3 linked regions of the Homo sapiens genome follow. The protein of the gene in region 1 purifies or fractionates together with the protein of each later gene. This does not show direct contact. Each region holds a gene or a part of one and is shown in the gene's direction. Other genes may lie near its edges.

Region 1 (3,751 bases):
CACCCAGGGAGCTTTTAAATTGATTGATATCTACACAGAGATTCTGATTTACTTTTTTCGGAGTGTGCCCTGGGTATTAGGATTTTAAATAGCTCCCAAGTGATACTACCATGCTATCAAGATTAAGAACTACGACCCAAATGTGTATACGAATCACTGGGGAACTTGTTAAAATGCACATTCTAGTTTGGTAGGTCCAGGGGTAGGTTCTGAGATTCTGAGTCTCTAATGAACTCCAAGGTGATGCAGATTTTGCTGGTCCATAGACCACACTTTGAGTAGCAAGGGCTTGGAGAGCATGATAATATGATTCCCTTGTTCAATAACATCATGAGCTTCCACATAATAAGCTCTCTCAGCCTGGCATCTTAGGCTGGCATCAGAGGCATTTAAGGACTCTAACAGCAATGGTTATCAAATGTGATCGTCTGAATGACTCCTGGGCAGGTTTTAAAAAATACAGATCCCTGGACCCCATACCAGACCTAATAAATCATAATATTCAAGGTACAGCCTGCACAGGGTATTTGAAAACACTTCCCAAGTGGCATAGTTGATCAACACACTTTAGGAACTGTGATATGCTTCCAAGATAGTTTCCCAGGCTCATTTCACATTAATTCAACATACAAACATTTATTGTACCTGCCTCATGCTAGGTACTAGGGAAACAAAGATGAAACCAGTGCCATCCTTACCTTTGAAGAGTTGGTAAGATAAATGACCAAAACTAGAATATTTACTATTCCCCAGGCACGGCCTAAACACTCACACCTCTGCTAACGGTCTTCTCCTTTGAGAATGTCTAGGTTCCTCAGCACCCGGGATTGCCTGTCCTGATCAATCAAGACAGACACCGTCTTTACCCCATTCGAGCCTCCATTCTTATCGCTCAAACTTACTCTGCTTGGTATTAAAATAGAACCAGAGAAGAAAAGGATTTACCCAAAGTGAAATAAAACAGTTGGTATTTATGTAGTGACTTCCATGTGCCAGTCATTGTTCAAAGCACTTTACACATGTAATATTTTAAAATTCTCAAAATAACCATATGAGATAGGTGTTATTACTATCCCCATCCTCAGGATCGAGGAAAGGGAGGCAACAGAAAAGTAACTTGCCCAAAGAGGTACCAAGCAAGGTTCACTTTCAAGCCTTATGCTTTACTGTCAAGTTGGTTACAGGGCTGACTGGAATACTGTAACTTCTAATTCTCAGGCCTGAGCACTTTCCTGCTCATCAATTCCTGTTTCACGACTTAAATTCAAGCACGAGGGCAAGAACGATGTCTTACATCCCCCACAATGCCTAGTAAGGGTGCAAGTACTTAGTAGGTACTCGATAAATTGATTGGATGAGCTGTCCCATTGAGGGGAGGGGAGAAGTGGATAATGATTTAAACAAACAACAACAGCTAAACAAGAGCAGCGGCCTCCAGGTCTCACGTCACCGCTAGATCCCTCTTGACCCCCCCGCCAGAGAAGGAGGACCCTCCCGCGCCCTTTCGGAGCGTCGGTGGCCCGGCTCCGGCTCTGCGCTCCATCCTCCCAGCCAGCAGGTGCCCCCAGACCCCCGGCTCCTCCTCCGCCGCCGTCACAGCCTCGTCCTCCGCCTCTGGCTCCTCCGCTTCCTGTTGCCGCGATCCGGGCCGGGAGCTGCGGGCGCCCGGGCGCCCGAGGCTTCCCGGTGCGCTCCGCCAGGTAACCGCTCGGCGCGAACTGCCCGGCCGGGGTGGGCACGGGGCCCGCGCGGCCCATTGGTGGGGAAGGAGGCGGCAGAGGGCCCGGGCTCGCCTCCGAAGGGGAGCGGGCCTCCTCCTGCCTCGGACGCCCGAGGCCTTCCTGCGCCAGGCTGCGGCGCCAGCGGGATGCGGGGATAACGGTGCCTGGCTCCGGCTCTTGGTCCGGGCGTGGCCGAGCGTCGCAGGCACCGCCGCGCGGAGATGCGATCGCCGTCCCTGCGAGGCCCCGGGGCCCGCGCTCGCCGCCAGCCACGCCTGCTCCAAGGCTCCTCCTCGCCAGTCTGGCCCTGGAACGGGAGAAACCAGGAGAGGAGCCTTGGACCTCTGAGCCGCGATGGCCTTCCAAATGCCCTTCCGTTCTTTGGCAAAAACCAAGAGCAAAAAGCCGAAACCCACACAGGGAGTTCCCAAGGTCACAGAGTTGTGTCTGCCATTTACGAATGTCTGTTCTTTTATTTAAGTGTTTGTAAATGGGCTACTGTTTTCTCTGTTCTGCCAAGGAATTAGGATTCAGAGAAGAAGACTCTAAAAATACTAATAGGCATATCCAAATGAGCTGATCCGCATTACTGGCCAGTGACCCTGGCCTTTAGAAGGAGATAAGGGAGGGCAGTTCTCTTCACCTGGGATACTTTGTATTTCTGGCCCTTACTCTGAGAATTGGCCTTGATGTTTTACAAAGTTTATCTCAGAACTCCATGTCAGAACTGGACCGGACTGTAGAGTTCTTCAGTCCTAGTCTCTTTCTTTCCTTTCCCTTCCTCCCCTTCCTCTTCCTTCTTTTCTTTTCTTTAATTTCTTCTTTTTTTTTTTAACTGTGGTTCTAGAGGTTAAAGTGATTTGCCCACACTCTTATGGCTAGTCTCTCTAGGGACAGAGACAGAATTGGAACCCAGGTCTATTATGGACACCTACGGTTTTCTTGAATGGAAATCTGATTTCAGATGAAAGCTGTACAGAACTTGACCTTCATGAAGCCCTCTCTGGATAGCATTCTTGGGAAGTGGCTTGTGTATTGACGTCCACAGATAACTATTTCACTGGTCAGAATAAGGTTAAGCAATAAGCATAGCCATGCAGAAAATGTCTGCTGAGATGAAGTAGATATCTGATATGTTTTTGACTTTTTATTTGTACGTTTCAATGGAGGAGCTAATGAATACTAACTAATAACAACATCTTGCTCATTTAGATTTTAGTCCTGTGTGACTAAATTGACTCAGTTATAGTTGTTCTTGTCCTAACGTATTTGTCACCAGTAAAAGTTCCAAGGTACAGCTTTCTGGCTTCATTTCATTTTTAACTGAATAATTGCCTTAAGGATATTTTTAGATCTCAACAAAAACTCCCCTCCTCTTGAACCTTAGAATCCTTCTGCTTCACTCTTGGCAAATCTTTGGGTCGGATTTCAGAACTGAATAAAGCCAGGATTTCCCCCCAACCTCCAAGATGTCTGGACTCTTTGTTTAGTTCTGTATTTAAGTTTATCCCAAGTTTTGTTTTTGACTGATGAACCTGTGACCCAAATCCAAACCTCAGCTGAATTTAGTATCAGCTTAAAACCACATTAAACTGCCATGTGTCATGTGACCTCTAGCAGAAACCAACGTGGCAGTGTTCTGTTTTTTCATGAGTGCGTTTCATTGGGGTTTTTGAACTGTGAAGACATTATTTAATACATGTGCTTTATTTTCTGTGTATTATTGCCCAAGGTCAGTCATCGCTAGAGGGTTATTATTGACATTTACTCATCATAAAATGTGATGTCAGCCTACCAGCTCGGAGTGCAGTTCCTGGTTTCCAGTTTACAACATTGACCAGTTGCTAACATGTTATCTCTGAGGAACTTGGAATGATAAATACAGCCATACTTAAATAGAAGATTCTTGGCCGTGTAGATAAGGAAAATAAGATAAGGCAATATTTTTGAACTATTCTATAATAGAAATGAGGATATATACACAAAATGACCCAGTGCTGTTTTCTTAGGGTGCATCCTTTGTTTTTCTG
Region 2 (3,651 bases), on another chromosome or scaffold:
GATGGTGACCCAGACTAGAGTAGTAGCCCTAGAGCTAGAAAGAAGTAGATTGATAAAAAAAAACTGTTTGGAAGAATTAATAAAACTTGATGGATAGGATTTGGGGGTAGCAGGGTGATAAGGTTAAGGTCAAAAGACATGTCAAGGATCTTTCTATGTCTTTGGCTTGAACAACTGGATAGATGGAAATCCCATGTCTTGAGGTGGGGTGCATGAGAGGAGGAGCTGATTTGGAAGGGACAGTCCAGTGTTCAGCTTGGGGCATGTTGAGTCTGGTGGGGAGGGTGTGTTTGTAAGGTAAGGGAGCACAGGGACTGGCCTTTCTTGAACTCTGGTAACTGGCTTGTGGTCTGGATACAAGTTAGAATAATACATAAACCATTTCCAAAACCCAACAGATTTTACAGGTTTTCAGTTCACAGATAAGTTGCTATAATTGATGTTGCCTCTGTGGTCTTTCAGATAGCACAGCACTCTAAAAATTTCTATGTATTTGATGGGCATGACATTAACAATATTCATTTTATAGTCAGTGCTCACTTATTGTGATCTGTCTTCCTTGGTGTTCCTAGAGCCGTGCCTCCCTGGCCCACAGCGTCAGGTTACAGATTTGATCTTTACATGGATCAGTTGGATTTTCTAAGTTGTCTTGTGACAGGTTGCATCCCTCACCTTGGATGGCTGACTTGGTAACTGATTAGGAAGGAAACTGCCCTAGAGTTGTTATGAACTAGGACTGATTGGTCTTTGCTACTACTTAAGACTCAAAACGTATGTTCTACCTACACTGGGACTCTAATGGCCTTTGTTTACAAAGGTGGAGCCCAAAAGACGGGCACTTCTCACATTGGCTATGGTTATATCTCCTTTCGCATTAAGTATACATTTACTGAGAAGCCAAGCCACACAATTTTACTTCTCTTTTGATTTCCTGTGGACAATATTTTTATTTCCTTCAACAAATAGAAGTAGGCCATTTAGAGGCTGGGAATATAAGTGTTTTGTTATTTGCTGTACCTCCAGTGCCTGGCACAGGGACTGGCATGCATATGGCACTTGATACATGTTTATTAAATACATGAGTGAAAGAAGGAATGGCTGAATCATCATTCTGTGAGAAAGGATAATTCAGTTTTCAGAAACCAAGACATCAGGCAAACTATATCTTCTTCTAAGATTACGTCCCTGAAACCTGAGAAATCAAAGCTGAAAAATAGAAATTTGGGCATCATCCTGATAAAAAGAATTACAAAAATCATTAAAGTGGAAGCCCTTGAGTGTGTGCAGGAGAGAGTAGGGATAGAGGAGAAGTGAACAGCAGAGAAACGGGTTGGAAGGAGGAGTGAAGCCTCAGGAGAGCAAGGTGTCCCACAGAAGCAGGAGCAGTCAACAGTGGAGAGCTGGGAGGTGCGAAGGGATGCAGACAGAAAGACACCTTTTCATCCAGCCAGAAGTAACTCAGGAAAGTGCAATCAGAGCCTGGGACACAGTGTGAAGTAAGACTGGGAATTCTGTCCTTTTATCTATATTCTTCATTACTAATGATTGTAATTGAGGGGCAAGTTTTTCTTGAGCAAAGATGTAGTTAGTTTTGATTTTCTGCTACATAAAGCCCAGCATCATAAGACACTGTTGGCAATGATATTGAAGGGTTTATTTTGTGATTTCTTGTAAGCTGATTATTTACTGATCAATGATCAAGGCCAGTTTTTCCATTGTTCCTGTTAAAGGTAATAATGTTTGATATATGTAACATAAATATTTCTGTGTGTGTGTGTGGGCACACGTGTGCACACATATTGATAAATTTAGGAGAATTACAAAAAAGTTACGGTAGGTAAAGAGTTGAAAGTTGACTTGAGTTCTAATGTGAAAAATATAGGCCATTTATCCAAAGTTATGTGGGAGCATTTCAGTTTAAATTTCATTAAATTCTCTAGTTCATAAGAATGCTACAGAGCTACAATAATAACAATATAGAAACGGGTTGTGCTAATACATGGGGTTTTGCCAATAATGTGTGTGTGCATGCACGTGTATGTATATGGCTAATTTTGTGTGTGTATGCATACACATATATATATACACATGCATAATTTTTTTCTGAACATTGTTTTGGTGTGATGTTGATAATAAGAATCCATATGGGGGCATAGGAGTACATTTGAGTCTTTTTAGGATGTTACCATTTGCAAAGGAATTAATTCTCACATAAGTAAGTTTACTTTATAGAAATGAAAGTAGTAGCTACTGTTTATTCTGCATCTCTTTTGTTCCAAGCATGTCACAGTAATCCTGGGAAGGAGGTTTTATGTTTCTTAAAGGGAGGAAATTGAAGTTCAGAAAGTTTAAATGATTTGCCCCAGGTCACAGAGCTAGAAGATAGGAGAATCCTGCCTTTTTTTTTTTTTTTTTTAACTCTAAAACTCATGCATTGTCCAGTGTGCAGTCCAAGTTAGAATCCTTAGGGTATTAGAGTGAGTTACCTGTTTGGTTGGGGGCCAATTAATCTCCACAGAGAAAGCAGAAACCATTAGATGAGAACTTTTTCAACATTTTGCCCCTAATAGCTACACCTGATTTTTCTTTTCTTTCTGTTAAGAGGAAAAGACTCTTCCCTCCAAGCACTTGATCCTTTTTATTTATCTCTTGCATCTTTAGTCTGTGTCTCTGCCTGCATCTCTTCCCTTACTAGCTTCTTCTCATGAGCATGAAACAGTCCCTCCCTGGCTTAGTCCGTTTAGGGTTGCTATAAATACCTGAGTCTGAGTAATTTATAAAGAAAAGAGGTCTATTTAGCTCACAGTTCTACTGGCTGTAAAGTTCAAGATTGAGCATCTGGTGGGGGCCTCAGGCCATTTCCATTTGCGGTGAAAGGTGAAGGGGAGCTAGCATGTGCAGAGATCATGTGATGAGAGAGGAAGCAAGGGAGTGGGGAGGTGCCAGTCTCTTTTAACAACCAGCACTGGCAGGAACTAATAAGAGTGAGAACTCACTCATCCCCTGACCCCAGGGAGGGCATTCATCTTTTCATGAGGGATATTCCCCCATGACCCAAACACCTCCCATTAGGCTCTACTTCCAATACTGGGGATCGGATTTCAACATGAGGCCGGGCCTAGTGGCTCATGCCTGTAATCCCAGCACTTTGGGAGGCTGAGGCAGACGGATCACCTGAGGTCAGGAGTTTGAGACCAGCCTGACCAACACGGTGACACCTAGTCTCTACTAAAAATAGCCAGGCATGGTGACACATGCCTGTAATCCCAGCTACTCAGGAGGCTGAGGCATAAGAATCATTTGCACCCAGGAGGTGGAGGTGGCAGTGAGCCAAGATCATGCCATTGCACTCCAGCCTGGGCTACAGAGTGAGATTCTGGCTCTAAATAAATAAATACATTCATTCATTCATTCAACATGAGGTTTTGGAGGGACAAACACCTAAACCACAGCACTCGCGAAAGGCAATACCTTCTGTATTAGTTAGTAGTTGTTGCATAACAAACCACTCCAAAGCTCAGTGAAGTAAACCAAGTACCATTTATTTAGCTCACTGTTTTGTGGGTCAGCAAATTAGGCTGGGCTCAGCGAGACTCACTTGTATACCTGTGGTCAGCTAGACAGCTTCACCTCTGGAGTAGTAGCTGACCA
Region 3 (3,651 bases), about 47 Mb from region 1:
CTGCTGGAGGCAAACTCCACCCCGGTGAGTCTCCCGTTCTCTCCCCCTTTCCCCACCACCTCCATGTGCCATGGAATCATGAGTGACTCAGACTCGGTCTCCACCTGCCAGAAGTTCTCAGTCTTATGTGGATAGGTTTCTGCAAACTCTGATGCCTGAGTCCCAAGTGTTCGGGGAAAGGATAAGGGAGAGCCAACTGGTGCTCAGAGGAGAGAGAGAAGCCTCCATGGAGATTTGCTGGAGGGAGTGGCACATGAGCTGGGGAGAAGGAACTGTCTTTTATCGAGCAACTATTATGTGCCAGGTGTGGTGCAGGTATCATTCCAGCTGCTCCTCACAACAGTCCTGTGAAGTTGGGGTTATTGTTCTCTCTCTGCAGATGATAAGACTGAAGCTCATTCATCCGCACAACAAATATTTACTGAGCTGCTACTATGGGCCAGGTGGTGTGCCAAGTGCCAGGGATCAGAGGTGAACCAAGGAGATATGGGCTCTGCCCACCTGGACTCAGCCTAATGAGAAGCCAGACATGGAACAACTAATTAATTATTCCATTTCAATAGTAATAACAGCTCTGACAGAGATTTGCAGTGTCTGGCCCTTTCATCCAGGTGGTAGTTCAGGCAAGGCTTAAACCGAGGACTGAAGGATAAACAGAAATTGACTGGGTGAAAGGTGTGGGGATCGGGTAAAGGGCACGGCATTCCAGGCAGAGGGATCAGCATGTGCCAAGGCTCTGAGAGAGGTTAAGACATTTGGCAAGTTGAGGAACAGAAGGACAGCTGGGGTGGCTGGTGCTTAGGGAGTGAGTGGGTAAGGAGGGAAGGAGGGTTGGCACGACCAGGTCTTGTGGGCTGTATGAAGGATGTTGGTTTCTGCTAAGAGCACCAGGGAGCCATGACAAGTTTTTGAACAGAGGGATGGCATGATCAGATCAGGTTCAATTTATATTTTTAAAAAGATAATTGTTGTAACGTTGGGGCATGTAAAAAAAAGGGGGTAGTCTGTCAGTTTATGAAATTTTGTTGTAGAAAAAAGGAAAAAAAAAAAGATAGTCTGGCTGGTAGGTAGGGAATGGATTATAGAGGGTAACTGCAGACACCCAGAGGCCACTTAGGAGGCTGGGACAGTGTCCGGGCAACAGACTGGAGATCTGGATTAAGGCCTTGTTGGCCGAGACAGGCTGATGAGTACAGGACATATTTAGGAGATGGAGTCAACAGAGCTTGTGACTGATGGAAGTGGCGGTTTGAAGAGCCGCCCAAAGCCCAGCTTGGCCTCCACCCCCATCTGCCTGACTCCAGAATCTGTGCTTGCTCTTTCTCTGTATGGCACAATGGAGCCCCCTCTCACCTATAGAGAAAGTCCGTTGGGAAGTAGCAGGGGAGACCTGGATGCATTTAGAAACCTCCTCAGGCATCCACGTCCTGAGTGCCAGGCATCATGCTAAGCCCCTGGCAGCAGTGACATCATTTCATCTTCCAACAACCCTGGCAGGGCAGCTGGGTGGGGGTTGGTATTATTAGTCCCATTTTACAGATAAGGAAGCCGAGGTTCAGAGAGGGGAGGTGACTTGTCCAAAGCTTATACTCTTAAGTCAGTGGAAAAGCCTACCATGGAACCTAGGTCAGTGAGATTTTGAGAGGAGGGCGTTATCTGCAGAAGTAGCTGCATGAGCAGAGACAGAGAAGTGATGTGTGCACATGTGTGTGTGCACAAGTGCTTATGCACATATGCATGCGTCTAAGGGCCCAGAGTCTGCCTGGCTGGAGAGCAATTCATGAGGCGAATGAAACAGGAGAGATGACCTCTGAGGTCATCGGGGCCAGCTCATGATGGGCCTCAAAGTCCAGTTGGAAGAAATGGACTTTCCCTGAGGCCTGTAGGGAGCAATAAAGGGCATTCAGCAGCGAGGGCTGTGGTCAGATTTTGGGGAGCAGACTCAGGCTTCCAAGTGGCGGGTGAATTGGAGAAAGCTGGGAGTAAGGAGGCTACAGCAGTAGTCTGCAGGGTGGAGGGACCCAGGTCAGGCTACCCTGGCTCTGAGCTCCAAAGCCTCTTTATGTGGGGCAAGTCAGTTCCACCAAAGAGAGGCGGAGGGAAGGAGGCAAGGGTGACTGTCTGCACTCTGTGACTCTATGAAGCGGCCTCGTCCTTCTCTGCCTGTCCATCTCCTGTGGCTCTGCTGACCCTTCTCTCTGCCCTGGCCTCTATTCTACCTCCCACTACTCCACATATACACGTCCTTCTGTGCCCGGGCTTACTAGAGTCGGGGTGTATTTGTGCCTGTGTCTACCTATCTTTGTGTGTTCACCTCTGTTTATGGGCTTCTCTCTGTAGCCTGTGTGGGAATGACCTGCCCTTTGTCCTCCGACATGCTGGAGTTCATACCTCACTCCAGGTGGAGGCTCCAGGAGCCCCTAACACCAGCTTTACTGGGAACACAGGGCCTGGGGGCACAGCTAGGGACGAGGCTGGGGTGAAGCGGACCAGGTGGGCTAGAGGACAGAAGGGAGTCGCCCTGTCCTCCCTGGAGACTGGGAACCCCAGCAGGATGAAATAGGGGAGGGTGGGCTAATTCTGGAAAGAGACTACTTGTCCTTCTTTTCTGCGTAACTTTGGCAGTCATCAGCATTCTCTGAGCCTCCCCCGTTACCATGAGCTGAGGAGAAAGAGGATGCTCCCTGCCACAGCCCAGCTGGCGGAGGGCTCTGGTAGGGTCTGGAAAGAGCTCTTGAGTCTCTTTAGGTGTAGAGGGCCTCTGACACCCCCTCCCTCCCTCCTCCTTCTTGGGTTTCTGTGGCTTGAGCAGGCCCCAGCTGGAGCCACCGTCCCTCCCAGGAGCCGCCGGGTTTGCTCCAAGGTCAGGTGTGTGACCCGCTCGTGGAGCCCCTGTAAGGTTGAGAGGCGGATCTGGGTAAGTGCTGGCTCGGCCCTCCCTGCCTCCATACTGGCCACCAGGATGAGCCTCCAAAACCAGGCCCAGTCCATCCCTTCCCTGTGACAAACATTCCATGGCTCCCTATCACCCACAGGACACAAACCAGCTGCTCTGCTGTACCCTCTGTCCCCAGCCACACCAGACCTTTTCCCTCTGCCAGCCTTCGCACATGCTGTTCCCTCTGCTGACAAGACCTCAGTTTCCTCATTCACCTGACAAACTGATGCTCATCCTGTAAGGCCCACCTCAAAGGCTGCCTGCCACCTACTCAGTGGGGACTTCCTAGACCACTAGGCATCGTCATTCCCTCCCTCAGCCTAGCGGCACCAAGGCTTAGTGCTTTCTTCATTCTGCCTGGTTTCAGAGCTGGTTTATTCCTGTCTGTGTAGTCTTCCATGAGGCCTAGAACTTCCTCCAAGGCAAGAATGAGGCCTGATTGCGCTGCCTCTATGGAACTTGGCACAAGGCTAGGTAAATGGCACATGCTCAATTAGTGCTCGATGATGGGGAGTCTATGCTGACCTTTCTTACACAGTGGGGCTCAGGGAATGTTCACTGAGTGAGCAAAGGAAGGAAGGAGGGAGTGAAAAACTTCCTTTATAGCAATACTACTACATAGTCTAATTTAGTCTAGGTCTGTCTCCCCTCACCCTCAATGTTTCTTGAAGGCAGGATCTGGCCTGAATCTTTTCTCTGTCCCCAGAACTCAG

The links.
Region 2: the proteins of TLCD5 (region 1) and RHBDD1 purify together in Homo sapiens (affinity purification with mass spectrometry; one large-scale study listed by BioGRID and IntAct). This does not show direct contact.
Region 3: the proteins of TLCD5 (region 1) and PLEKHB1 purify together in Homo sapiens (affinity purification with mass spectrometry; one large-scale study listed by BioGRID and IntAct). This does not show direct contact.

What each region holds. Positions count from the first base shown.
Region 1 is NC_000011.10:120,323,669-120,327,419, forward strand, and holds the start of TLCD5 (TLC domain-containing protein 5), read left to right. Parts: upstream 1-1,630; 5' UTR 1,631-1,700; intron 1,701-3,453; exon of another isoform or gene 3,454-3,707; coding exon of another isoform or gene 3,708-3,751.
Region 2 is NC_000002.12:226,859,956-226,863,606, forward strand, and holds part of RHBDD1 (rhomboid-related protein 4), read left to right. Parts: intron 1-3,651. UniProt on the Homo sapiens protein: Intramembrane-cleaving serine protease that cleaves single transmembrane or multi-pass membrane proteins in the hydrophobic plane of the membrane, luminal loops and juxtamembrane regions.
Region 3 is NC_000011.10:73,652,991-73,656,641, forward strand, and holds part of PLEKHB1 (pleckstrin homology domain-containing family B member 1), read left to right. Parts: coding exon 1-24; intron 25-2,812; coding exon 2,813-2,917; intron 2,918-3,651.